4 separate regions of the Homo sapiens genome follow, and regions 1, 3 and 4 are each reported to be linked to region 2. Evidence: microRNA targets listed by miRTarBase, many of them from high-throughput screens and not tested one by one. Region 2 holds a microRNA gene; each other region holds the end of a gene's coding sequence. Distances are from middle to middle.
What was found. The annotated mature microRNA hsa-miR-4783-5p reads GGCGCGCCCAGCUCCCGGGCU and lies in region 2 at 2,151-2,171, shown strand. An mRNA with a match to its seed (bases 2 to 7 or 8) in the 3' UTR can be bound and repressed. Matches are read on the target gene's strand: a 7mer-m8 pairs with bases 2 to 8, a 7mer-A1 pairs with bases 2 to 7 and ends in A, and an 8mer does both.

Region 1: miRTarBase lists FAM163A as a target of hsa-miR-4783-5p. Seed matches in the 3' UTR shown: 7mer-A1 at 2,681-2,687.
Region 3: miRTarBase lists SSX5 as a target of hsa-miR-4783-5p. Seed matches in the 3' UTR shown: 7mer-A1 at 3,010-3,016.
Region 4: miRTarBase lists HJURP as a target of hsa-miR-4783-5p. Seed matches in the 3' UTR shown: 7mer-m8 at 3,527-3,533.

What each region holds. Positions count from the first base shown.
Region 1 is chr1:179,812,425-179,818,340 of GRCh38, forward strand. It overlaps FAM163A (family with sequence similarity 163 member A), which reads left to right. Exons shown (of 5, transcript NM_173509.3): 4 at 652-766; 5 at 1,355-3,774. The coding sequence starts at 674. The coding sequence ends at 1,765. It overlaps LOC105371634 (a long non-coding RNA gene), which reads right to left. Exons shown (of 5, transcript XR_007066756.1): 2 at 5,568-5,665; 3 at 4,944-5,450; 4 at 2,475-4,103; 5 at 1,871-2,170. Among named protein-coding and RNA genes, the nearest start is that of MIR12116, 11 kb to the left of the region's middle. RefSeq lists a silencer at 670-895.
Region 2 is chr2:127,421,610-127,425,756 of GRCh38, reverse strand. MIR4783 (microRNA 4783) reads left to right here and starts at 2,139; the gene lies at 2,139-2,220. PROC (protein C, inactivator of coagulation factors Va and VIIIa) reads right to left here. Exons shown (of 9, transcript NM_000312.4): 4 at 2,816-2,840; 5 at 2,586-2,723; 6 at 2,349-2,483. It overlaps LOC105373608 (a long non-coding RNA gene), which reads left to right. Exons shown (of 2, transcript XR_007087228.1): 2 at 1-1,057. RefSeq lists enhancers at 1,676-2,472, 2,473-3,271.
Region 3 is chrX:48,183,394-48,189,309 of GRCh38, forward strand. It overlaps SSX5 (SSX family member 5), which reads right to left. Exons shown (of 8, transcript NM_175723.2): 7 at 4,234-4,338; 8 at 2,827-3,463. The coding sequence ends at 4,238. Among named protein-coding and RNA genes, the nearest start is that of SSX5, 10 kb to the right of the region's middle.
Region 4 is chr2:233,833,629-233,839,544 of GRCh38, forward strand. It overlaps HJURP (Holliday junction recognition protein), which reads right to left. Exons shown (of 9, transcript NM_018410.5): 9 at 3,074-4,024. The coding sequence ends at 3,949. Among named protein-coding and RNA genes, the nearest start is that of HJURP, 18 kb to the right of the region's middle.

The DNA.
Region 1 (5,916 bases), not on the chromosome of region 2:
AAGGAGAAGAGAGATACCCCCAAAAGAAGTGCTGGTTTGAGCCAGAGAAGAGCCACCTGGTGTTTTCGAGATGTGGCCCTTTCCCCGCCAGCCCGGGCCAAAGGCTCAGGGACCACTGGGGTGTGTGCCAAGAGGGCGGGGATCAAGAGCACAGCCTTTGGGATGAACGGGCTGGGTGGAATCGCAGCCAAATTATTCGCAGCCCCGTTCAGCATGCGTGCGGTAGGGATAGCTAATAACTGCCCCGAAGGGTTATCGCGAGGATGTAGTAAGATGCGTGGGGGTGCTTAGCATGATGCCACACAGGGAGGAGCCCCGCAATCAGCGGCAGCTGTTCCTCTGTGTCTGCAGCCACGCAGAAGCGGGAGCTAAGAAGGGTGTGACGGGAGAGGAAAGGCGAGAAGAGCACCAAAGGGGAAAGATCGTGAGAACTTTTTGAAACTGGGTACTCAACTTCGCCCACTTAGGCTGGCCCAGTCTGGAGCCACAGTCGTCCTCAGCCTTCAGGAAACCCCTGGGGCCTGGCCCTCCCGGCACCTGCTGCTCTCAGGCCCCCTGCCCCAGCCTCGGGGCAGTTCCAGGAAGACTCCCCCCGGCCCAGCCCAGGGCTGCAGCCACAGCTGGTCCTCAGCCCTCCGCACATCTTTGCAGAGTTTGATGGGGCGCCGGGCGGATGACAGCGGGAACGGTTGTGATCACTGGCGGAATCCTAGCTACGGTGATCCTCCTCTGCATCATTGCCGTCCTGTGCTACTGCAGGCTCCAGGTCAGTCCCCGGGACCCGTAGCCAGAGGCTGCCAGGCCACCAGCAAACCTCTTTTTCATTATGGGGGCAGAAACTGGAGGCCGACTTCAGGGCCCACAGAGCCCAAAGCTATGGAATGTAGCAGGCGTAAGTCAAGGAGGATGGGAGTTGGGGCTGGTCGGAAGGGAGCTAAGTGCCCCCCAGCCTGCCCACTCAGAGCACACAGAAAGTGTGCTGGAAAGATACGGGGTCATTGGGTTGTGTCTCCTGCACCTCTGAGATTTCAGGAGCATGGGAAGAGCACCATTCTGGGGAGGCTCTGAAAGCTGCCGCCAGCAGCTCCAGCCCTGTCCTCAATATGATGTGTGTGTCCCTGCCCCGCTCAACTACAGCCTGGAGTTACTGCGAGGAGTGGTGGGAGGGGAAAAGGAAAGCAGTACTGGCCTTGCAAAGCTGGGATTAGAAACTTGTGGAGCAGGCCCCTGGGGTTCAGTGCCTGGCACTAGGTTCTCCATGGAGCAGGGGACAGGGGCACCTGTGCACGCTCAAAAATGCATGGGGCGGGGGGAGCATTCACCCTCTCAGGCATCCCTCTGCCCTTCCGCACAGTATTACTGCTGCAAGAAGAGCGGAACCGAGGTTGCAGACGAGGAGGAGGAGCGGGAGCACGACCTTCCCACGCATCCCAGAGGCCCCACCTGCAATGCCTGCAGCTCCCAAGCCCTGGACGGCAGAGGCAGCCTGGCGCCTCTCACCAGCGAGCCCTGCAGCCAGCCCTGTGGGGTGGCCGCGAGCCACTGCACTACCTGCTCCCCATACAGCTCCCCCTTTTACATACGGACGGCTGACATGGTGCCCAATGGGGGTGGAGGCGAGAGGCTCTCCTTTGCTCCCACATACTACAAAGAGGGGGGACCCCCATCCCTCAAATTGGCAGCACCCCAGAGTTACCCGGTGACCTGGCCAGGCTCTGGGCGTGAGGCCTTCACCAATCCAAGGGCTATTAGTACAGACGTGTAAATCCTTCCACCCCGACCCGCACACACACCCACACTGCTGCCCTGGCGGGGGCCATGGGGGTGATGAATGACCCTCCAACAGCCCCACATGGGTTGTTTCTGTTTCTTTGGCTTTTCTCGCTCCGCAGTGGAGGGTTTACTAGGATTTAAGCTTTTGAGTGCATTGAGAACCAAGACAGGGCCTGGCTCCAACTCTGTGGGCCAGAGGTGGGGGACTGCTAGGTCGAGTCTGCAGCTTCGCCAGTTTCTTGGTTGGGACACTCCTCTGGCAGCCCCAGCACCACCACAACCCCTTGCAGTGTGCCCCAGTCCCCTGGATTCGCTGGACTGCAAAAAGGAGCACCAGGGAAAGCTCAGCAAAGGCTCAGGAGGCCTCCCGGGTCCTCGGGAGATGAAGCATCCGTGCCTAGGAAAAGGGGACAGAGGGCAAGGAGAGAAGTGAGAGCTACAATTCCAGCATTGGAGAAGCGAGGGGCGGGGCGTCAACGGCACTGCTTCAGGACGCGCTTGCTGAAACGACTCCAACAGCTAGTTCACAGCCCAGCTTTGTACGTTGGTTACCATAGCTACTGCTGTCACTGTAGCTGCTCCCGTAGGGTCGTTGATTCCTGAACGTATCACATCTCACCTGCCCCCTTCCTCGTGGGACGTGTCAAGTTGACTTTAAAGCCTAAGGTGGCTTGTGGGGACTGCACCAGAAAGTGTCTAACCTTGTGTTCCCCGAAATCCTTTCTCTGACTTAGGAACCAGCGCCCCCTGCTGGAGAAGTTTTTTCATTTTGTTAGCCGACTTCTGGTAGCTTAGCAAAGAGACCAGCTGACTGTCTCTCGGCCCAGCCCACCACGCCGAGTAGCTTGTGTGGATGCAGTCCTGTGAGGGTGTGCATAACCGTTCCCAGGTGTACGCACGCGCGCGCGCGCGCACAGACACACACACACACACACACACACACACACACACACAGTAACCACGGGTAGGCACCAGGGGCTTTGTACATTCAGGAGCTGCAGAGAGGAAAGGTCTCCCATGTACCAGAGAAGGAAAAGTCTGATCCCGAAACAGCTTGAACGAAAGGTGGTTAACACGTGACCAATCCCCATGGCAGACAGCGGGCTGGTGAACAGGAAGAGCACAGAATCTCTGTGGGGCGATGCTGCAGCGGCTGAAACCACGTCAAGTCCCCCAGAGCCCGGCATTCTATGTAAGCATCCACCTGTGACGCCGTGGAGCAGGATCTTCATTCATCTCACCAGAGCAACAGCCCAGTCCTGAGGATGGGAGGGACGTGACTTAGCCTTGGGATTCCACGCTCGCCGCCCTCCCTTGGCCGCCCTACTCCCCAGTTTCCTGGCGATGAGCCATTTATTGTGTCTCACACCAGCCTCATTTCCAACTCCGACTTCCTACTTAGAATGTGGCAGTGGCTTTGTGAGTGAGAATCCTGATGAGTTTTCCAGTGGCCTCTGCAGAAGCTGGCCCCCTTCTAAGGGCATAGCTAACCCCCTTCCCACTCCTGAGTCACTGAATTCGAGGAGGGTGGGGCAGGGAAAGGGCTGGCCCCCCTGCTGAAATCTTGATTCTGCATTTGAGGAAGGTCAGGGTGCCGCTGGGGGAGCAGGGAGCGGGGAGGGAGGAAGAGGGGAATGCACATCTTTTGCGCCACTATTAAGGCACCTGTCACCTTACATCTCAATCTGGAATCAAAGTGCCCTGGGTTGAGAAGCAGACCTGGGCTCTGGTCACACTTTGGTCACTCATTAGCTCTAGGACCAGTCACTAATCTCTGAGACTCCATTTTCTCCAGGGAAACGAGGCTTGCCCAGATAGACTAACAACCCTTTAGTGCTCCAAGAAGTGAGAATTTCCGAAAAAGATCTGCCGGCCCAGAGCACTCCCTCTTGCCCTAATCCTGGCAGGGTCTGGATGTATTTACCCAACTCTGATCTTGCGTGCAGGGATGCTTGCTGATGGATGAAAGACCACAATAAAACAAGATTAGCAGCAAAACAATTTTAATTGTCAGTGAAAAGCAAACATGTTTGTCAGACTCTCCTGTGGAGTCATTTCAAATGGTAACTCTTCTCTTGTACCAGGAAGCAGCTGTAGGTGGGGTAATGGGATCTGTCTCCTGGTGCAGAGGGGCAGCTTATGGCGGCAGCAGCTTCAACAAGCCCGTCCCACGGCCAGCCCTAACTGGGCCAAGTGCAAGCTCCTGATGAGCTGCTGGGCCTGGCAGCGTTCCCCACTTCCTAGTGCCTTGCTCCCCTGGAATTCCACAGCCAATCAACCACAGCAGCCGTGTCCTCCTTGCCAGAAATAACATCATTCGTACGTCCTGCCTTTGTAAAAATCAAGACCCAGTTAACCATCACCCACTTCTTGCCCCTGATTGATGGGGTCCCTGAGTACAAGCGTCCTGTGCAATCCCCTCCCTCCTACCGCTTTCCTAGCTAAGCCCTGCTAGCCCCACAAATCAGAATCTGGGTTTGGGGTGCTGGAGAGATGGTGGGCCCCAGCTCTTCCCCACATAGCCCACGCTGCTCAGGGCACGGTCTCCAACCAGGCTCGAGATTGCCTGCCTGCCCGCTGCAGCCGCAGGGCCCCACCCTGTGGAAAAGGAAGCTTCCCCCACTCAACTGCACTGTCCTTTTCTGCTGTCTAGTCTGTGCTAAGGGACACTACTTGTACACTTTTCAAACGGTGCCCTAAATTGGAAGAGAAGGAGGGGCCAGGAACACAGCCCTCTCCGCCGTCTTTCTCCACCTCCACTTCACCACTCCTGCTCTAGACTTCTTGTCTTGCATCTTTGATAACTTGGAGTCATAACCGAGTGGATGTCGGAATAAATGAGAGATTTGAAGTAGAAATCCCACAGGGTCCTTCGTTCTTCACCGGGGGAAGTGAAGGGGGCTGTTGGTGTGGATTTAAGGGTGAAGCCTCCTCTTCAACACCCAGAGCGTCTGTGTTCCACGCTCTCCCTGCTCCCACGGTAGCAAACCTCCACCTTGTTGCCTGGCATGCCCCCATTGCCTCAGTCAGAGTTCAATCGGCGGAGATTTGCTGTTTGTTGGGAAAGTGGCTGAAGGGCCCTGCTGAGGATAGTGAGTTTCCCTGTGGGGCAACCCAGGCCTCGGCCCCTGCTACCTGCCCTTCCCCTCTTCCCAACCCTGCACACACACCTTCCAGGCTGGTGGTCTTCCTGCCTGTGTAGCTCAGGGTAAAATCACTTCTCTGAAGCCTGAGGAGATCATGTCACATGGCCAGCCCTTTGTTACAGGGGCAGCAAGGGAAGAGAGGGGAATTGGGACCAGATCCCCAGTGCAGCCCAGCAGAGACTACAGAAGTGGAGAGGGATGGAGGGGGACTGGAGAACTGGGAACTAGCTTTGTGTGTAGGAGGGAGAATTCGGGGATGAAGTGAGAACGTCTTTTGTGTGTGTGTGTGTGTGTGTGTGTGTGCCTGCACTTGTGCACATGGGTGTGTACGAGACAGCTGCTCTCTCTCCACCTCAGGGCCTCAGGGCGAGCCCTGACTGCAGCTTGGGGGTACAGCAGGCAGCCTGCCCCAGCAGTCCAGCACCCAGGCCTCCAGCCCTGCAGCAGCCTTCCCTAGCACCAGTGGGAGCACAGCTTCCTTCACCCTCGGCCCAGGGAGCAGTTGGCCACAGCTCTGTCACCACAGCTGTTCTATGGAATCAGAAACCAGACCCTGAGGCACACTCATCATTGCATCCATCCCAACCTCCAGCCATCTCCTTTGCCGCCGCAGGGCAGCCAGCCCGGACTCGGCCTCCAGCCTCTCACCCGGCACATCTGCTTGGCCTCATGCTTGCTGGCAAGTCACGGCCCTGACCCAGCTCTTCTCCCTGGTGGCCCTCAACTGCCTTCAGCCTCAGCTCCAGCTGGGGAGGAGGGTGGAAGAGCAGCTTGAGTCAGACTGAGGAATGCAAGAGAGGTGCTGGCCGTCCTTGTCACTGTTCTTTGGAAAATGCCTCCATCAGTGCCTGAAGTTCAAGGAGTGTGGGCTGTTTTCTTTCTGAGTTCTGAGCAAATCGAGCTGGGGGACTCCGGGGCATGCTGCGCTATCCTGGGAGTCTCGGCCTTAGGCGGTTTGGTGATCTTCCCCTGGAAATAATCAGTGGGTCCTGAGCAG
Region 2 (4,147 bases):
TTACAAACCCCCTCCAGTCAGTCAGTCAGTCAGTCAACAAACAGTACCACCCAATGGCAAGAGTCAGGCCAGGCAGCATCGCCCACTGCCTGTGTCTCCTTACATAGGTGGTTAAACTTCTTAAAAGCTCATTGTACCCCAGGGCTGTTGGGGGTGATCCCTGGGATTAGTAAGGTCTCATAATGGGATGCTGCTGAGCTCCTCACAGAGGAAAGGAATTACAGGGAGAAGGAGGTGAGCATTCTTGGAGAGCTCCTACAATAGGCATGGCATGTTTGTGAGGCCTCCCTGCCAAGAAGAGAGCGCATACTCCATGGAGAACTGAGGGCTGAAAGGTCGGCCCGACTCTGCTCAAAATGGGCCTTGAATGCCCAGTCCAGATATCTAGACTTAAAAGAGCAATGGGACGTCGTCAGCAGGGGAGCTGCATCATAACAAAAGAATGGAAAGGGCACAACAGCAACAATTCCAGAAGCTGACAGCAGATGGATGGACACAGTAACTGACTTGGCAGACTGGAAAGCAAAAATCTCAGCCCGTGATGGGGGCGCCCAGAAGCTGAAGGACTGGACCACGGAACCATAGGAGGCTGTGGGGCTTCCAGGAAGGCAGTGCAGGTGGGAGGGCATGTTGAGAGTTTGTAAGAGAAACTGCGAAAGCCCTCCTCACTGACTTGACTCCCCTCTCCCTGCCTGCAGAAGGTGAACCAGAGGCTCTGACTAGGGACTTCAGGCCCCGCTTCAGGAAGGAGTGGTGCTCTTAGCTGACCACAGGGAGTCATGCAAATGTCCACAGCCTGCACAGGCACCAGCTCCCCTGCCCCACCCTGCTCTGAGGGGCCGAACACCATGGGTGAGCGTCTTCCATCCTCCAAGAGCTTGGAGGAGTCCTCTTAGAAAGCAGCCTAAAAGGAAAGCCCTCACGATCTGGGGTTCTGCCAATGACAGGGCCTTCCCAAGGCCTTGCAGGAAACCCACAGGCCAACAGGCCCACCAGGCATTTCTTTGCAGCTTCCTGGAAATATCTAATTATTTCAAAATAAAAAGTTAAATTTTTAGATCTTTTTTTACTTTTTTTAAAAATAGAGACAGGGTCTCACTGTGTTGCCCAGGCTAGTCTCAAACTCCCAAGCTCAAGCAATCCTCCCACCTCAGCCTCTCAAAGTGCTGGAATTATTGGTCTGAGCTACTGAGCCTGGCCAAAAATTTTTTTCTGCAGAAGAATTGAATTATAAAGTTGTAGAAAGTTCCCTGAAAGAGGCTGGGCGCGGTGGCTCACGCCTGTAATCCCAGCACTTTAGGAGGCCAAGGCAGGTGGATCACCTGAGGTCAGGAGTTCAAGACCAGCTTGACCAACACGGAGAAACCCCTTCTCTACTAAAAACACAAAATTAGCTGGGCGTGGTGGCGCATGCCTGTAATCCCAGCTACTCGGGAGGCTGCGGCAGGAGAATCGCTTGAATCCAGGAGGCGGAGGTTGTGGTGAGCTGAGATCACGTCATTGCACTCCAGCCTGGGACAACAAGAGTGAAACTCCATCTCAAAAAAAAAGAAAAAAAAGAAAGTTCCCTGAAAGAAAACACAAAGTCAAAGAGATGGGAAATAGAAGAGACAATAAAACTAGAGGAAAGAGGTCTGAATAATGGGAGGTCCAGAAAGAGAAAATAGAGGAAGTAAAGGGGAGATTGTAGAAGAAATAAGTGATAAATGTCCCTAGAGGCAGAAGATAGGAATTTCCACATTAAAAGGGTCCACCTTTTAATGAAAATGAATGAAAAAAGGACCCATGCCAAGGAACAGCATGCTGAAATGTAAAAGTTGTAAAACTCTGATTTTTAAAGTTTCATACATATATAAATTTGATTAAAATGCATAAAAAGGAAAATATAGAAGAAGGCAGAATCGGGATTCTGTTCTCTCCTCAAGGAAGCAAGGGGGTAAAGAGGGAAATGCGATGCACGCCGGACAACGTCAGAGAAAAACGCAGCCAGGCTACATGGAGGAGGACGCTGCACGCCTCGCCCCAGATACGCTCAGACTGGGGAGCGGAGCCACCACTGGGCTTGCGCTCCAGGAGGTGGCCCCAGGTGCGCAGGGGGCGCCCGGAGGAAGGCGGGGACGCCAGGAAGAAAGGAAGCAGGGAAAGCGGAGGGCGCGCCCAGCTCCCGGGCTGATTGCGCTAACAGTGGCCCCGGTGTTGGGGCGCGTCTGCCGCTGCCCCAAGGCTCAACTCTGTTCCTCGCTCCCTCCCTAGAAACCCTCCTGAGCCCCCCGCGCCGCGCCCCGTCAGGGGGCCTGCCCACCCTGCACCCAGCGTGATTCCTGGGCGATGTATTGGGGGCTTCTCACCTGCGGGGTGACACTGCAGGAGGTCGTCCCCCAGCTTGTAGCCAGGCGCACAGCTACAGCGCCGCCAGCCCACCTCCTCTAGGCAGTAATGCGTGCAGCCGCCGTTGTCCAGCGAGCAATTGAGGAAGCTCACCTCTGCGGGCAGGGGAGGGCGCGGGCAGCTGGTGCTGGTGCCGCGCCCCCAACCCGGCCCCAGCCCCGCCCCGCCGCCCGCCAGCATCCACCTCTCCCCCTCACCGCGCTGGCAGAAGCGGCCCTCCCAGCCGCTGCGGCAGTCGCAGCTGAAGCTGCCGATGCCGTCGATGCACGTGCCGTGCCCGCAGCACAGGCTGGCGCACGGGTGCTCCAAGGGCAAGACCAAGCACTGGTCACCGTCTGCGACACAAGGCGGGGTAGGGGGTCAGCGGCCAGAGATCCCGAGGGGCGCGGGCGCCGGTAGTCCAGCCGGGGATCTAGAACGCACTCACCGACGTGCTTGGACCAGAAGGCCAGCTGCGGAGAGAGCGGGCAGCGTCAGGCTCCTGCAGCCGGTGTGCGGAGGGGGCGCGCCCGGGTGGGGCAGGGCAGCGGGTGAGCGGGCAGGGGAGGGGAGGGCTTCCAGACAAACAGGGATCGACGCCCGATGGTCGTTGGCTGCTAGGAGCTGGTGCTCCCTGCCCCTCCCCCGCCCTCCAGCGCCACCCGCCCGCGCCCAGCCTCCATCCCACGTCCCTGGAGCAACACCCTCTCCCCATGCAGCTGCAGTGCTGCTCTCGCGACTGTCTGCTCCCACAGCAGCCTCTGGCATGCAAGGGACCCGAATCCCTCACCAAGTCACTCGGCCTCCTTCCAGTCCCATCACTCCCTCTGCCTGCGGGCTTTGGGGGACCCCTGAGCATCGCGCCTTTCCCTAAGCCAGTGTTTTTCAGAGTTGGGAGGATGGGGGCAGAGGGTCTGCGTTCCTAACCAGGTACCAGGGTTGCTGCTGCGGCGGCTGCTGCTGGTCCAGGACCACCCAGCCCACGTTGAGACCCACGGCCTGTGCCTGATGCCTGCTCCATCAGAGAGGCCAGCCAAGGCCTGCTGGGGCTGAGAGACCATGGGTGAGGTGGGAGCACGGTGGGGACTTGATGTGATCAGATATGTGCCTGCAGAAAGTCACTGTGGCGTCTGCCAGGGAGGCCACTGGGGAAAGAGGTGGTGGGGATGGAGGTCCAGATGGGGGTCCAGTCAAGGAGGTGGAGGCTGAGGGCAAGAGAGGGTGCAGGCCAGAGGGTCTCCTGCCCTGAAAGCCTCCACTGGAAAGCATCCCTGGATGCCTTGGAAGGGGGCCCAGGCCGTGCACAATTTTCAGGTCCTAGTGGCTGAAGCGATCCCCAGGGACAGAGCGGGTCTGAGCCTTGTCTCAGGAAGCCAGCCCCGTTACCAAGCTCACCCTACTACCTAGGGCCACGTCCACAGGACTCTGGGGGCTCCAAAGGACTCTGACCCTTAGACAAATAGGACACAGACCCTGTCTTCCGACCCCCTGAACAATCAGATTTTCTCCCTTTGATGTGAGGCACAGAGTGAGCGATTTTATGTGGACAGAAGTGAGTTTCGGTCACACACACACCCTGATCAGCAGAGGCATGGGTGGAAGCAGGGTGGTCTTTAGGTCCCCTCTTTGTGAGGTGGGACGGGGAGGCAGTGGTGCTCAGCAGTGGCTGGAGGGTGGACTGAACCACCTACACTGTGGCTGGTGGGAGTCCCCACCTAGGGTCACCCCACACTCTTTCCTGGAGCTTCTTCCTGAATTCTGTTTCTTGCAGTCACATGTG
Region 3 (5,916 bases), not on the chromosome of region 2:
TCTCGGCTCACTGCACCCTCCGTCTCCCAGGTTCAAGGGATTCTCCCGCCTCACTCCCTGCAGTAACTGGAATTCACAGGCCAGCCACCACTACCGGCTAATTTTTGTATTTTTAGTAGAGACGGGGGTTTCACCCTGTTGGCCAGGCTGGTCTCAAACTCTTGATCTCAAGTGATCTGCCTGCCTCGGCCTCCCGAAGTGCTGATATTACAGTGTGGGTCACCGCGACCGCCCAGGAGACGCTCTTTGTAACAAAGCCTCTGAAAATCTCCAAACCCTGAATCAAAGAAAACACGGAGCTGGAAAGGGCCTTAGGAAAATCATCATGTAAGTTAATTTAAAAGTTCATCAGAAACGTCTGAATCAGCCAGATTCCCCTCCAACACCACAGACAGATTGGCTGGCAGTAGCCACTTTTGCCTCTAAGATGAAACTCTGATAATTATTCATTAAAGAAACTGAAGGCCTGGCGAGGTGGCTCACACTTGTCATCCCAGCACTTTGGGAGGCTGAGGCAGGAAGATTGCCTGAGGCCAGGGGATCCAGAACACCCTGGGCAACATAGTGGATGCCGTCTCTACAAAAAAATACAAAAACCAGCTGAGTGTGGTGGTGTGTGCCTGTAGTCCCAGCTAGATCGGAAGCTGAAGTGGGTGAATCCCTTGAGCCTGGGAGATCGAGGCTGCAGTGAGCAGCCTCGATCACTGCATCACTGCACTCCAGCCTGGGCGACAGACTGCGATACTGTCTCAAAAAAAAAAAACACGAAAAAGAAATGTATCAGGACTTGGTGTAACTTCAGCCCTTCACAGTAATAATGAAGTAGAGAAACACATTTGTGGAGAGGGGACCATGTTCACTCTTTATCCATGATAGACAGATAGTCGGGAGCTTTATATACCCAAGGAACCTAAGGAAAAATGTTCCCTGTCATGACTCACAATCTTCCAGCCACCCTTCCTTGCACCTGTCTTGTGGGCTGGGGGACCCAACTTATGGATCCCATCATCCCAGGGAGAAAGAAAAGTCAAATCCTTCAGTATCTCTTTTAGGGTATTCTCTCCTCTTTGCATGGAGGATAAGGCACTCAATATCTAGTATCGGAATGTTACATTTGTGTAATACAGAACTATATTGGGATAAAATAGAATTTGTTTCTTCTGAGACACAGGTAGAGGCACGTCCACACTGACCTGGGTGGAAGCCATCTCTTCCTGAAGTGCCAGGCAGGGCATGCTCACAGATCTGGGGAACCTCTGTTGCTCCTGGAGCCCCACAACCTCCTTCCTGGCACCCTCTCCCTCTGGTGGCTGTGACAGCCCACACTTGGCCTTGGGTATCCCCTGCTTCTTTGCCTGCCCCTCTTCTGCCCACCCTGCATATCTCTGTCTCCCACTGTCCCTGCTGTGACCATGACCGCCTCTCCCTCCCCGCACTCTCTCTCTCCTAGGGCTCCTTGTCTTGGGAAAATGAACCCACAGCCTCTACCTTGCAACTGGGGACAGAACCCGGAGTTTGTTCAATTCTCCCTCCCTCCACCACACACACCTGTCCTCCTTAATGTTTCTGAAGTCAGTGAGCTCCAAACTCAGCTCCTCCTGCACCTGCCAGCTGTAGGACCTGTGACAAGACACCTACCATCTGTCTGGGACTCTATCTCTCATCTATCATATAGGCATAATGATCATAGTGTTCTCCTTCCAAGGCTGGGGAGAACCAGGAGGCCAAGGTGATGGGGTATGAATGGTCAAAACAGCTCCAATCCTGCCTCCACCTGGGGCTGCTGTTTCAAGTCCGTTGTGTTTCAAGCATTAATGTCTCCATTCACACACAATGGTTTGTTCTAAAACAGACTCCCCTCTGCCCTTCCCTTCCCCACAACTGTTTCACCTCTGCACCGTGCAGTGGTACCTGTGAGAAAGAACTGTCCCATTCCCAAATCATCGTCTCCACCCCAGCCCCCAGGCCCTTGGGTGGTGAGACCCTTGATGGGCAGTCTCATGCTTCTGTCCAGGGGACTTTCCCACCGTTGCTCCCCCGCATGGAGACTAAGTGAACTCTTCTATTCCCTGGCCATCACAGGGTCTACAGTGCACGCATCTTCCCCATCCCTCTGCATTCCCCAGATGATGATTTCATCTGTGTCTCCTACCACATACTCCCAAATGGACCGTCCCAGCCCTAGAACCCGAAAATCGTTCAGAGAGCAAAGGCCAAGATTCCCAACCACCTGCTGCAGAATACTGCTCCAGGACTGAAGTGTATAGTCTCTATCAAAATAAAAACTGGAGGCCAGTTGCGGTGGCTCATGCCTGTAATCCCAACATTTTAGGAGGCCAAGATGGGAGGATCGCTTTGGCCCAGGAGTTCGAGACCAGCCTGGGTAATATAGGGAGACTTTCTTGACAAAACCTGAAAAAATTAGTGGGTCATGATGGTGTGTGCCTGTAGTCACAGCTTCGCTGGAGGCTGAGGTGGGAGAATCGCTTGAGCCCAGGAGATCAAGGCTGCATTGAGCTATGATCATGCCACTGCACTCCAGCTTGGACAGAGTAAGACCCTGTCTCTAGAAAAAAGCAAAAAAAACCCAACAACTGGAAACATCCTCCTCTAGAATGGTGGTCAGGAACATCTGTCTGCCCTGTTCCCTGATGTCTCTTCAGCACCTATAACAGCGCTCAGCACGAGGACGCACTCATTAGGGTTTTGTTGAATAAATGACTCCTTTGACACAGCAATTCCACTTCTAAGAATCTTTCCTAAAGAAATATTCACACAAGTGCACAGAGCTGTGTGCACAATAATGAGAGGAGCAAACAACTGGGGAACGTTTGCAAAGGTTTATTAACTGGCAGTGACTGATAGAGGGGAATCGGATGAGGGGAGTACATGCTGAACAGGAAACAGAGTGAGGGGGGCTTGACCAGGACACATGGGGAAAAGCAGTTGGGAGATGCCTATACTGGTACTTGGTGTGTGTGTGTGTGTGTGTGTGTGTGTGTGTGTGTGTGCGCGCGCGCGCGCATGTGTGTCTGTGTGGCATGTGTGTGTGTTTGTGTAAATGCAGAGGAAAAAATCTGAAATTAAACACTCAGAACTGCCCTCAGTGGTCACATCTGGGAAGAGAGGAGGGTAGTGTTGTTCTATGCAGAGAATACCTGACGATACTTGTTTTCTGAGGTAGGTGCATGGATACACAAACTGAAATATGCATTAAGTATGTCTTGCTCATCAGTGAAAACGCTAATATCTAACAGAATGGCACACTGTAACAAAATACAACAGAAACACTAACATCGAACTCTTGGCACACTAAGAAAAATGACGCTCAACTTTTCACTGTTGTGAACACTTGCTTTCACTTGCTATACACCTGATGACGAGGGATCCGCAGCCATGCCCATGTTCGTGAAAGGTCACCACGTTCTGCTTCTCATCATGGGCATGTGTCATATCCCCGAGGCTGAGGCAAGAAGCGAGAAGGAAAGTAAGTGGCAGTGAGTTCCCACCACATGACAACTCAATCTCAACTCCTCCTGACCTGCAGACCCTGCCCACTCCGATTCTGCCCTACCTCAGGACCTGTACACGCCTTCCATGGTTCCTTGAAGTGAACCATCTGCTCATACCACAGTGACTTCCTCGCCTGGGTTATCAATTCCTAGGCTAGAGGAAGGTGTGGCCCGCATATCAGTGCTGACCTGGGGTTTGGGAACCCACAGCATCCTGGGTAGGGAGGATCCCTGGATATAGAGGGCAGGGAGTAGAAAGAGCATGGTTAGGCAGGCGCAGAGGCTCACGCCTGTAGTCACAACACTTTGGGAGGCGGAGGCAGATGGATCACGAGGTCAGGAGATTGAGACCATTCTGGCTGACATGGCGAAACCCTGTCTCTACTAAAAATACAAGAAAAAAAATTACCCGGTCGTGGTGGCGGGTGCTTGTAGCCCCAGCTACTGGGGAGGCTGAGGCAGGAGAATGGCGTGAACACGGGAGGCGGAGCTTGCAGTGAGCCGAGATCATGCCACTGCACTCCAGCCTGGGGGAACAAAAGGAGACTCCCCCACCCACAAAAAAAAACATGGGAAATTTCATCATTCAGCCTCAATGCTGTACCCTAGAAAATTATGAGAAGGGAATGATTTGGGGAACAACTGATAAGATGGGATACCAGTACCATAACAGAATAGCACATCTGCAAGGATGTGGGAGATGAGCCAAAGGTTCACTTACGGAGTTACTCGTCATCTTCCTGAGGGTCGCTGATCTCTTCATAAATCACCAGTTGCTTTCTCTCACGCACTCTGTGGGTCCAGGCATGTTTCCCCCTTTTGGGTCCTATGATGGAGAAGAGTTGGAAGATGAGGGTTGGGTAGATTGGAGAGGGTTGGGTTGATTGGAGAGTGTTAGGCTCTGTTTTCTCCAAAAAAGGAGATGCCTCCCCACCACCAAGTGCCCATGGGTCTTCTTTATCCAGTTTTTCACATTCTCTGGCTTAGAGAGGCTGAGACCTTAGACCCACACCAATACAGGCCAAATGCAAATTAAAGTTTTAGCTTCTGGCTCCTTCCGTTGTCAGGTTTAGATTCCCAACCTCTTCACTTACGGGAACATTCACCCTTACCTCCTTTCATTCAGCACGTATTTATTAAGGCCACACAGGCGTACCTTGTTTTATTGCACCTCATTTTCATACTGCTTCACAGATGTTGCAATTTTTTTTTTGGAAATTCTCACCAATTTTACACTTTTCCATTATTATTATATCTGTTATGGTGATTTGTGATCAGTGAGCTTTGATATTATTACTGCAATTGTTTTTATTGTTTTTTAGTCTTTTAAAATAATTTCTGTTTTTTATTTTTGTGGGTACACAGTAGGTGTATATACTTATGGGATACATGAGACGTTTTGATACAGGCATGCAAATGCGTAAAAATCACATCATGGAAAATAAGGGATCTATCCCCTCAAACATTTATCCTTGGTTACAATCAATCCATTTACACTCTTTTAGTTTTCATACTGCACAATTAAGTTATTATTGACTATAATCACCCTGTTGTATGTAATTATTCTGGGGGTAACAGGAACTGCACTCATAGAAGTTGACAAACTTAATCGACAAATATTGTGTGTGTTCTGACTGCTCCACCGATGAGCTCTTCCCTGCCTCTCTTCCTTTTCTTGGGCATCTGTATTTCCTGAGACATATCAACACCGAAATTAGGAAGATTAACAACCCTACAATGGCCGCTAAGTGTTGAAATGAAAGGAAGAGTCGCATGTCTCTCACTTTAAATCAGAAGCTAGAAATGGCTAAGCTTAGTGAGGAAGCATGCTGAAAGCCAAGACAGGCTGAAAGCTAAGCCTCTTGCACCAAACAGCCAAGCTGTGAATGCAAAGGAAAAGTTCTTGAAGGAAGTAATAGTATATAATGCAAAGGAAAAGTTCTTGAAGAAAATAATAATACTAATACTCCAGTGAACACAAGAATAAGAAAGCAAAACTGCCTTACTGCTTAAATGAGAAAGTGGTCAGGATAGAAGACGAAACCAGCCACAACATTCCCTTAAGCCAAAGTCTAATTCAGGGCAAGACCCAAACTCTCTTCAAGTCCATGAATTCTGAGAGAGGTGAAGAAGCTGCAGGAGAAACGTGTGAAGCTAGCAGAGGTTGGTTCATGAGGTTTAAGGAAAGAAGCCGTCTCCATAACATAAAAGTGCAAGGTGAAGCAGCAAACCCTGATGGAGAAGCTGCAGCAAGTTATCCGGAAGATCTAGCTAAGATCACTGATGAAGGTGGCTACACTAAACAACAGATTTTCAATGTAGATAAAATAGCCTTCTATTGGAAGGAGATGCCATCTAGGACTTTCATAGCTAGAGAGCATTGACTTCAACTTTGAAAGAAGTT
Region 4 (5,916 bases), 110 Mb from region 2:
TGCCAAGCGGTGAGGGGAGGCCTAGAGTGTCCCATCTGTCTCCAGGGACTCTTCTTTTTTTTTTTTTTTTTTTTTTGAGATGGAGTCTTGCCCTGTCGCCCAGGCTGGAGTGTAGTGGCGCAATCTCGGCTCATTGCAACCTCCACCTCCTGGGTTCAAGTGATTCTCCTGCCTCAGCCCAGGTGCGCAGCACCACGCCCAGCTAATTTTTGTATTTTTAGTAGAGATGGGGTTTCACCATGTTGGCCAGGCTGGTCTCAAACTCCTGACCTCGTGATCCACCCACCTTGGCCTTCCAAAGTGTTGGGATTACAGGCGTGAGCCACCGTGCCAGGCCAGGACACTTCTTAAAGGGAAAGGCACCTAACCACAACACACATCAGAGGGAGGACTGCAGCCAGGGTGCAAGTGCTACAGTGGCACAGGAGGGTGGGTGTGCAAGTCTGGAGACAATCCAGAAAGGCCGCATGGAGGAACTGACATTTATTCCAGGCCCTTCCCTTTGCGACTTAAAGTTACCAAAGTTAAGTTTGGACTGTTGCAACTGGAGCCCAGTGAGGCCTGGAACAGAATTTGGCTGCTGGTCAAAAAGGAGAAATTAGCCCCATGTCTAAGAACATGTAGGGGAAGAGAGGGGCAGTGTGGGGAAGGCTTTTGCTATGCTCAGGCCATCAGAATAGTCTAGGTGTCCCCAGAGCAGGTAAACCAGGACTTCCAAACTGTTCCCAGTCCAACTGCCAAAGGAATTCACCATCCGGGGTCCCATCAACAGGAGAGAGCTGCTATGCTGTCCAAAATCCAACCCGTGCTAAAGCCTTCTCTGGAACAGTGGTCTTCAAACTGTTTTGTGGAGCAAATGGTGACTTGATTTCCTGCCCAGTGATAAAGAGTATTGCTGCTAAACAAGCTTGAACACCACTGATGCAGTGGGGAGAGTGCACCATTCGATAGAGTACAAGGAGGCAGCTGTACATCTGTACAATTGGCTCTCCTTCCATGCCTGTGCAGAAACATTTCCAGATGGTTTATAGACCTAAATGGAGAGAGCAAAATTTAAGACAGTACAGTATTTTTTTTATCCTGAGAGTATGGTAGTTTTTCTTTTAAAAGTAACAGCAGAAGCCAGAAAAAAGGAGGAAGTTATCTGCCTTAGTATGTTTAGCGTTGCTAAAACAGAATACCCAAGGCTGGGTAATTTATACAGAAAAGGTTTGTTTAGCTCCTAATTCTGGTGGCTGGAAAGTCCAAGAGCATGATGTTGGCATCTGCTTGGTTTCTGGTGAGGGCCTTGTGCTATCTCGAGACACAGTGGAAAAGCAGAAAGGTGAGTGGGCAGGTGCAAAGGCAACCCGCTCTCACAGAGAGTGAGAACTCACTCCTTCAAGAGGGCATTCATCTATTCATGGGGTGTCCACTCCCATGACCCAAAAACCTGCCACTAGGCCCCCACCCCCTAACAATTACATGTGCAATTAAATTTCAAGACAAATGGCATCCGAACCATAGCATTGTGTTAAAATGTAACTTCCATACAATAAAATAACACAAAGTTAAATGACAAATGATAGATGATAGAAGTTAAAAACTGGATTGTTTCATATCATTGGATCCAGAATACATCCAAATCAGGAAGAGGCAAATATAAAACCAGTGTCCTGAGGACATTTAAAAAACCAGGACTCCCAGGAAGACATGCTCAACAAGTCATCAAGAGAAAGCAAACTGTGAAGCAACACATCTTACACCTGCCAGAGCTCAGACTGGCAGCAACTGGCAGCGATAATGTGGGGAAAAGGTACCTCTTATATTGTGGGACATTGGGCAAACTGGGGCAGCCATTTGGGAGAGCAATTTGGCAATAACTATGGAAGTTCAAGGCACACCCATCCGTGACCTGTAATTTGCCTCTAGGTGTGTGTGTGCCACAGATAGTTGACAGTTATGCACAAGGATCACGGGTGGATTTTGCACCCGTCCGCAGACATCCAGGACAATAAACCACCTAGAGAACTCAAAGTGAGATGCCCACATCTATCAGCTCTTGTCATATTCAGTCTCTTGATGAAACAAAACTGTAGCATATGTACAGTATTAATTTACTCATATAGTTTGAAACAGAGAGACTATACCATATATAGTTTATGGGGCCCTTATTGGCAGATCTGTAAGTTGGCAAGACCCATGCCCAGATCCTTCCACCTCACCTTCCTCCACTGGATGACAGAACACCGGCCTTTCTGGCAGCCAGGCCTGGCCCGGGCAGCAAGGTTTCAGCTGTCTGCTGGGTGTGGGGGAAGGAGAGGCACAAGCAGTTCTGGGTTGCAGTGATGGTTTTCCTGAAGAGGAAAGGGTGGGTCGCGTTGTCCTTTAGGAAGCAGCAGGCCTGAGGGAAGGCTCTAGATCTGTAGGGGCCATTCTGGCCCTGGCTGAGCCTGAGCCAGCATTACACTGCCGGCCTGTTCTTTGAGGAAATGAGCCGTCTGTGAGGTCTGCAGCACCTGGCGAGGTTCTCGGCTCTCAGCAGCGTGCACCCTCCTTACTGACTCACAGGCTATGGATTGAATTATGATTAAGTCCTAGCCCCTGGCATGATGGTATTGGAGATGGGGCTTTCTGGAGGTGATTAGGTTTAGATGAGGTCATGAGTGAGGGGCCCTTATGATGGGATTAGTGCCCTCCTAAGATACCAGAGACCTTGCTCTCTCCAGCATGTGGGGACACAGCAAGAAGACAGCTTTCTGCAAGCCAGGAAGAGTCCTCACCGGAGCCCAACCATGCTGGCTCCCTTGTCTTAAACTTCTAGTCTTCAAAAACTGTGAGAAAATAAACTTCTACTGTTTAAGCCACCTGGTCTCCAGCATTGTTATGGCAGCCTGAGCATGCAGGTGCGCACGCACACACACACATAACATGGTCCCAATGTAAGACGCAGGGGGGAAGAGATATGGGGCAGGGTATGGGGGTGATACCTGACATCAGGAGAGCAATCGCCTGGGGCGGCAGGCGGGAATGAAAAATGTGTAATTTAATCTCATTTTAAATCTTTCATAAAAAAAAAAAACCCAAACTCATATGGCCATATATTAACTATTTACTCCAGCATGAGTTTCACCAATGTATTCTGAATATGTGAAATATTTCATTACAAAAACGTCACCATGATATCCTGTCATCAACAGCTTCAGTAAGAATCATGAGGAGTCACAGGCGCTGTGGCTGCAGGAGCGTCTGGGACCACCAGGACTGTTTATTTTCCTTCAAGGGTCATTGCATGCAGGGCTCGAACTTACGTCTCACAAGCAAACAATATTCTCGAATGAAATGGGAAACAGGAGAGAGGATTCTCTGGACATATCTAAATTTAAAAAAGAACACACGGCTGGGAGCAGTGGCTCACGCCTATAATCCCAGCACTTTGGGAGGCCGAGGCAGATGGATCACGAGGCCAGGAGCTCGAGACCAGCCTGGTCAATATGGTGAAACCCCGTCTCTACTAAAACTACAAAAATTAGCCAGGCGTGGTGGCGCGCGCCTGTAATCCCAGCTACTCGGGAGGCTGAGGCAGAAGAATCGCTTGAACCCGGGAGGCGGAAGTTGCAGTGAGCCAAGATTGTGCCACCGCACTCCAGCCTGGGCGATAGAGAGAGACTGTCTCAAAAACAAACAAACAAACAAACAAACAAACAAATAACCCCCCCCCAAAAAAAACACACACATCAGAAAAACAGGCCTATCAAAGAGAACCCTAAAAATTCTAATTGAGCAACTTTATTCACATAATTTCTACACCAAGAACTCGAGGTTATCTCTGATGGAACCAATTTCACTAATATTTACTTTAAGGGCAGAGAAGTCAACCAAGTCCTCACAGTCTCAAGAATCAAAAACAAAACAAAAATACAAACAGAGAGCAAGTGGGAAGATAAATAACACTCCGAAATAACCTAGCTACACACTTTTAGTTTCCAATTTTTCTAGCATGAAATCACTTTTCTCTTCCATCCTGTAAGACGTGTTCTCTCCTCTAGGAAAAAAAAAAGACAAAGAAAATGATGTTAGCAAAATTCTAGAATTCCCAATGCCAGCCACTAAAAGGTTAACTGTTTTCTACTTATTCCATTGCATGTATAAAAATACTTATAGAAAGTGGCATTACGTTAAATAAGTAAGTTATGTTAAAGAAACAACAAAAATATAATGGCAACCCCCCGACCCTGCTCCCCACACTCCCCCAGGGAGCACAAGCTGGTGGGGAAGTCCACATCCCACACCCTGGCCCAGCTAGCGCTGCTGCACGAGTGAATTTAGGAGTTCTAAGACTTAAGCTACTTTTCCATATCTATTAAAAGGAGAGACAGCCTGCCTATTGGACAGAATCGATCTAATCAAGGGGTTCTGGTGGGGATGAAAGAAGATAAGACGTAAAAACGGTTCAGCATGGCCTGGCACACAGAGAGCACTCAGACGTTAGGCATGAAAACTCCATATGTAGTTGCAGCTCATGAAGAATTGGTCTCTTTCCTCAAGAAATCTATCATTTAAGCGGGAAAAGCAGAAAAACATAGGAAACCAGTTAAACATGTTTATATTGTGGTTTAAAATGAAACCTGGGGTGTTCATGATTTGACTTGCTATCAAATTCCAGGGTAGCTGGGAGGGCCCTGCGGGGCCACCAAGGGCTGAGTCCTCAGGATGGTCCCACAATAATGCAACCTCACACCATTCTCTACAAGGCCGAGGTCCCTCCTGTGTGGCTGGGCCAGAAGAAAGCCCTTTAGACTGAGCAGGTGAAAAAGCAAGGCAGGAGCCTCTGCACGGAGCACTGGGGCAGATGTCACTCATGGAAAGGGGTCTGCAGGCGACTGGCACGGTGCCAGATCATGGAACAAGGTGGGAAAAGGCACGAGACAAAATCCCAGGGGCAGGATGATGGTAAAAGGAAGAGCTGGGGCACTATCTGAGAAAAAGCAGTTAGGTTTAGACAAGCAGGACGAGCAGAGCAGAGGAGCTCTGATGTGTGGGAGACCAGGAGAAACCTCAGATCTCTCTCTGGGCCGGACAGTTGTTTTTGGTGAAATTCTCCCCTTTCAACTGAGAAGGAGACTCTTGAGAGGTCATCTGTTAAACAGAACGCATAAACTTTGCCTCAAAGCAGCCTCCATGAAGTGTCTGCCATGAAGATGTAGCTGAGATTCTTGAAGGCTTCACTAACTGTGGCTGAAAGTCACCCGGCTGGTGGTTTGGTCTGAAAAAGCCCCAAGTGGGCACAGGAGTGGGCATCAGGCACACAGTTGGAGACCAAGACCCGAGGGAAAGACTGCTGTTAGCCGTGCACTGCCAGGGGAGGAGCTCCGAGGGCCCTGCCCACACAGTGCCCCTGACCCTAGCTGGGGCCCTGCAGAGAAAAACCTTTCCCATCACCTGAACACTTACGTATGTCCATCCTCAACTGGGAAGACAGATGACAACCAAGGCTTGTTTCATCTGCTTCTGGTTAGCTCACACAGTATGACTTTATACACGAAAATAACTTTGAAAACCAAAACATCCAACAAAACCTGGGAGCTTCTAGAACTGAGCCAAGGAGCCTGAGCCGCTAACCCATGAGACTGGTCTGTGTCCAGACAGCTCCCCACTGCAGCACCCACCATGTGCAGCCCCTGGGAGGGTGGGGGTTACCTGCACGGAGCAGGCAGCTGAGCGGTGGGTGGAGTCTAGGGAGGATGTCCGAGGATGCAATAGCAAAGAACTGGGGAGTAGGGGGAGAATGCCAGTGAAAGTTCCCTGGAAGGGAAGGGCTGTCCTACGGCAGACCCTGGAGCAGGTGGCCCTGAGCAGTCCAAGGGCATTGGGAAGACAGAGTGACAGTGAGAAAGGCCCCAGGGGGCTCAAGCCACAGGAGGCCGCTGGCGGTCT